Regions from separate parts of the Homo sapiens genome. Here region 2 is linked to region 1. Evidence: fine-mapped expression QTL. A gene starts in region 1. The other region holds a variant in brackets. All regions are shown on one strand. Distances are between the middles of the regions.

Region 1 (2,911 bases):
ACCCAGGCTGGAGTGCAATGGCGCGATCTCGGCTCACTGCAACCTCCAGCTCCTGGGTTCAAGCGATTCTCCTGCCTCAGCCTCCTGAGTAGCTGGGATTACAGGCCCCCGCCACCACGCTCAACTAATTTTTGTATTTTTAGTAGAGACTGGGGGTTCGAGGAACTCCTGGCTGTAAGTGATCCCCCCCGCCAAGGCTTCCCAAAGTGCTGGGATTACAGGCGTGATCTACCGTGCCCAGACCTTGAGCGGTTTTCATAACAGACTGTGAAAGACGGTTCACACCTTCACCCTGACAACCGCCGCCCAAGGCGACGCACCCTTTGCCGAAGTCGCCCCCACTTGCATTCCGTCACCTCTCAGGAAGGACCGAGCCCGCAAGTCCCTCAGCCCCAGCGTCTCCGTACCTCGGGATTGTAGTCGGCCGCGTCAACAGACGCAACCCCAGCCTCAAGGGAGCGGGAGATTCAACTCCCCGCACACGCGCCTCCTCGCAGCGACTTCCTGTGCGCGAGAAGCTTCTCTGAGCGGCTGCACCCAGGATCCTCCGCGGCAGCGCCAGGACTCTATTTCCCAGAGGGCTGTGCGGGCGACTTCTTTCGCCTTCCCATCTCCTCCTGCTTCTTCAGCCTTAGCACTGTGGGAGTAGAGTAGAAAGAGAATCAGGACCAGGCGGCATCAGTTTGTAGTCCAGATTTTTACCTTGTTAAAGAATCATCTAATTAGCTTCTTGCCTTTACTAGAAGTCAGGGAGTGTTAACCTTTTCCGAAGAGCAAGCGGTAGGTTGCCATGGAAACGCGTTGTGACGGGTTTCTGAGAAAACAAGCGGAAGTAAGGGGCGGAGTTGAGGCAGAAGTTTAGGTAATGTGACCTCTGATTGGTGGAGAGGTACCTCACGGTGCATTCCGATTGGTCTGACACTGACACATGCGCAGTAGAACCAGAAGGCGTTCCAAAGCGGCTAGAACGGAGGGGAGGGGGATGAGCAATGAGGGAATAATCCCCATTCCGTCTGGAATCAGAGGGCGGGCCTGCCGCGGAGGCATCTGGGAAACGGAGTTCCCAGGCAGGCGAAGCCCAGGGGCCGTCAGGAAGTCAGCGGCGCCTGCGCGGGCGCCTCAGATTCAGGATGCGCGCGCAGCGCTCTCCGCCCAGCGGAAGTTTTCGCTGGGCAACTGAGAAGGTGAGTCCGGGTAACTGCGGAGGATCCGAGGGTCAGGCTGCAGAAGCCCAGAATCCCACCCCAGTCCCCAAGTACAGAGGTGAGGGGAAGCGAGGCGAACGAGGGGACGTCCCCCGACCCCCTAGCCGCAGCTCGGCCGGGGCGTCCGTGACGTCAGCACGACCGTTTGTGGGAGGCGGAGGCCCCTGCTGTCGGGGTTCGGAATGAGAGCGGCTCCGGGTCGCGGGGTTCACTGGCCTCCTCTTGAGCTTCCCAAGCCACCTTGGGCTCCGTGTTGGGCATGGCTAAGGCGGAGATGGGCGGAACTTGTGGGAAGTTCGACAGCTCCTCCGCTGTGAAACTTGGCGTCTAAGTCATCCCGTGGTTTCTATGGAGGTGCGGCCGAAGGGAGGCTCTGTCGTCGCCTAGGCAATCGCCCCACCTGCGCTGAGGTGGGGTCTGACTTTTAGCCTTTTTGCTGTGCTGTTTCCTGAACTTTCTAGGAGGAACACTATACAGTAGTTGACGCATAGCAGCTGTTCCCTAAACATTTGTTGAATAAGTCAAATAAATTAAGATAAAGACTGGCCTGAGGGTTGGAGTCTTAGGGTTTCAAGTCCTGACCTGGCCATTGCATAGGTGACTTCAGCACATCCAATTTTATTGAGCGTTTACTATATGGAAGGCTCCGTGCAACCGATATTACACTACTATAACCTGGGTTTGAACGGTGCTAGTCTAATAGGCACTGTTCAAGCCCAGGTTATTATAGCAGTGTCTAAAACAAAAATCCTGCCCAGCTAATTCACATTCTCAGGGTGGTTGGGGATGCCAGACACTAAAAAAGAAATGTTAAAGAATATTTACAGGTCTGCAGTCCCTTATCTATAACTTTAAAATCCAAAACGTTCTGAAAACTGAAAGGTCTTTTTCTCTGTTTTGCAACTTACTTGGCAGGCCAACCTCACCTGGCTTTGAACTTGTTTGCTGGCAATACCCACTCTGAACTGATGTGTGACTATTTAGAATTTTTAAAGATTTTGTTGTGCAAATCATATACTTATGGAGAGTTGCCCCTGGATCTCGCCGGTGTTGTAATATGTAATAGGTTCTAAAATCCAAAAAATTTGGCTGGGCACGGTGGCTCCCGCCTGTAGTCCCAGCACTTTAGGAGACCGAGGTGGGCGGATCACCTGGGTTCAGGAGTTCGAGACCAGCCTGGCCAACATGGTGAAACCCCATCTCTACTAAAAATAAAAAAATTAGCCGGGCATGGTGGCATGCGCCTGTAATCCCAGCTACTCGGGAGGTTGAGGCAGGGAGAATCGCTTGAACCCAGGAAGCGGAGGTTGCAAGTGAGCTGAGGTCGTGCCACTGCTCTCCAACCTGGGTGACATAGCAAAACTCTGTCCATCATGCAATACATGGCAGAAGCAAGATCCAAACCCAGGCAGATTATTTCCCAAGTTTATCCTCTTAACCCCTGTACTGATCTGCTTCTAAGTGGCACGTCTTTTTTAGGGACCATCCAGCTAGATAATTCCGGCCCTGAGCTTTGAGTCTCTGGCTGGATGTCTAGATTTGCCTGAGAGATGAATGTGTACTGACACAGCTGGGGACCCCCCCCACCCACCTTCTTGGCACATTTTCTTTTGCAAAGGAGACAATGATTTATTCACTCAGCAGACGTAGACCCAGCATTTGCTCTGTGCCAGGCCTGTTTGAGGCTCTGGGCACACTGTGGCAAA
Region 2 (2,911 bases), 54 kb before region 1:
TAATTTTTTTTTTGAAACTGGGTCTCTGTCGTCCAGACTGGACTGCAGTGGCTCAACCATGGCTCACTGCAGCCTTGACCTCCTGGGCTCAAGCGATCCTCCCACCTTAGCCTCTTGAGTAGCTGGGACTACAGGTGCACACCATGGCACTTGGCTATATATATATATATATATATATATATTTTTTTTTTTTTTTTTTTAAAGAGATGGAGTCTTGCTATGTTGCCAAGGCTGGGTCTCGAACTCCTGGGCTCTAGTGATCCTCCAATCTTAGCCTCTCAAAGTGCTGGAATTACAGGCATGAGCCACCGAGCTTGGCAATAATTTTTTAAAAGGCCGGTTTTTTGTCTCTTGAAAGTGCAGGAGTCTTGGCAAGTCTAGCAAATGGCATATACTATTTTGTTTCTCTTCCCTCCCCTTTCAAGTGAGAATTGTGATTGTTTTCTTGTTTTTCCTCCACTGTTATACACAGGGGTGGGTTGCTGAGGGGGCTACAATTTCATTTAACATTAATTTTTTTTTTAGATGGAGTCTTGCTCTGTCACCAGGCTGGAGTGCAGTGGCACAATCTCCACTGACTGCAACCTCCGCCTCCCAGGTTCAAGTGATTCTTCTGCCTCGGCCTCCCGAGTAGCTGGGATTATAGGTGTGTGCCACCATGCCGGGCTAATTTTTGTACTTTTAGTAGAGACAGGGTTTCACCATGCTGGCCAGGCTGGTCTTGAACTCCTGACCTCAGGTGATCCACTTGCCTTGGCCTCCCAAAGTGCTGGGATTACAGGTGTGAGCTACCGTGCCCAGCCTTAACATTAATTTTCAGGATCAAGAGAGACTCCATGTGCCCTTGATGAAAGGAATAGCCAATATCCAGAAATCTTGGTCTGAGGATTGGATGTGGCTTTGGGATCCCTCCCTTTGCAGAAGGGGTGAAAGCTTCTGCAGTTGCACTAGAGATAGTTATGTTAGGTGGGAGTATTAGTTTTAGCCAACTTTATCAAAATATAATTTGTGTACAAGAAAATGGATCAATATTTCAAAAAGATATTTGCAACCCACTTTCATAGCAGCATTATTTACAATACCCAAAAGGTAAAGGAGGCAACCCAGCTGTTCATCAACAAATAAATGGTTCGACAAAATGTGGTATATACACATAATGGATTTTTTTTTTGAGATGGAGTCTCGCTCTGTCGCCCAGGCTAGAGTGCAGTGGTGCGATCTTGGCTCACTGCAACCTCCGCCTCCCAGGTTTAAGTGATTCCCCTGCCTCAGCCTCCCAAGTAGCTGGGACTACAGGCGCCTGCCACCACGCCCGGCTAATTTTTTGTAGTTTAGTAGAGATGGGGTTTCACCATGTTGACCAGGATGGTCTCGATTTCCTGACCTCGTGATCCGCCTGCCTCTTCCTCCCAAAGTGCTGGGATTACAGGTGTGAGCCACTGCACC[A/T]GGCCCATAATGGAAAATTATTTAACCTTAAAAAGGAAGGAAATGCTAACACATGCTACAACATGGGTGAAGCCTGAGGACATTCATGCTAAGTGAAACAATCCCATCACAAAAAGACAGATGCTGTATGATTCCACTTACATGAGGTACCTAGAGTAGTCAAATTCATAGGGAATTTCCCAGAGAGTAGAACGTGCTTCCCAGGGGCTGGGAAGGGAAGGCAGTGGGAGTTGCTTGATGGGAACAGTTTCAATTCTACAAGAGGAAAGAGTGGAGATGAGTAGGGGTGATGATTGCACAACAATGCAACTGTACACTTAAAATTGGCTAAGTCCTGGGAAAGTGGCTCATGCCTGTAATCTCAGCTACTCTGGAAGCTGAGGCAGGAGAATCGCTTGAACCGGGGAAGCAGAGGTTGCAGTGAGCCAAGACCATGCCATTGCACTCCAGCCTGGGCATTGCAGCGAGACTCCGTCTCAAAAAAAAAAAAAATTGGCTAAGATGGTAAAGTTTGTGTTATGTGTATTTTGCAACAATGTACAAGAATTTAAATGAACCAATTTTAAACGCAATGAATTTTGACAAATGTATTCGGTTGTGTGATCACTTCCATCATCCGGAAAGTTTTCCTGTGTCCACTAGTAATCAGTCTCTCCATAACCACTGCCACTGCCCCCAGTCAACCACTAATCCATTTTCTGCCCCTGCGTATTAGCCTTTTCTTTTCTCTTTTCTTCTCTTCTCTTCTTTTCTTTTCTTTTACTCTGTCACCCAGGCTGGAGTTCAGTGGTGTGATCTCAGCTCACTACAACCTCCGCCTCCCAGGTTCAAGCCATTCTCCTGCCTCAGCCTTCCAAGTAGCTGGGATTACAGGCACTCGCTACCACACCCGGTTAATTTTTGTATTTTTAGTAGAGATGGGGTTTTACCATGTTGGCCAGGCTGGTCTTGAACTCCTGACCTCGTGATCCACCTGCCTCGGCCTCCCAAAGTGCTGGGATTACAGGGTGAGCCACCGTGCCTGGCCTCTGGCCCCTTTCTTTCTTTCTTTCTTTCTTTCTTTCTTTCTTTCTTTCTTTCTTTCTTTCTTTCTTTCTTTGTGTCTCTCTCTCCTTCCTTCCTTCTCTCTCTCTCTCTCTCTTTCTTTCTTTCTCTCTTTCTTTTTTGAGTTGGAGTCTCACTCTGTTGCCCAGGCTGGAGTGCAGTGGCATGATCGGCCCACTGCAACCTCCGCCTCCCGATTCTCCTACTCAGCCTCCCAGGTAGCTGGGATTACAGGTGCCAGGCTGCTTTTGAACTCCTGATCTCAAGTAATCCGCCTGCCTCAGCCTCCCAAAGTGCTAGGATTACAGGCGTGAGCCACCATGCCCCGCCCATATTAGTGTTTTCTTTCTACAATTTCACAAAAGTGGAATCCTACAGCATATACCCTTGTATCTGGCTGTATCACACGGCATCATGTTTT

Evidence for each region. PIP is the estimated chance that this variant, and not a neighbour inherited with it, causes the effect. A credible set is the group of variants that fine-mapping cannot tell apart.
Region 2: its variant is the best candidate, but not a certain one, in a credible set for the expression of VRK3 in T cells (TOPMed, PIP 0.78).

The regions. Positions count from the first base shown.
Region 1 is chr19:50,023,619-50,026,529 of GRCh38, reverse strand. It overlaps VRK3 (VRK serine/threonine kinase 3), which reads left to right and starts at 1,158. Exons shown (of 15, transcript NM_016440.4): 1 at 1,158-1,263. ZNF473 (zinc finger protein 473) reads right to left here and starts at 525. Exons shown (of 5, transcript NM_015428.4): 1 at 408-525. RefSeq lists enhancers at 372-421, 832-881, 1,222-1,301, 1,351-1,852.
Region 2 is chr19:50,078,032-50,080,942 of GRCh38, reverse strand. No RefSeq gene overlaps it. Among named protein-coding and RNA genes, the nearest start is that of SNAR-A4, 13 kb to the left of the region's middle. The variant A/T (reference allele first, on the strand shown) is at 1,447.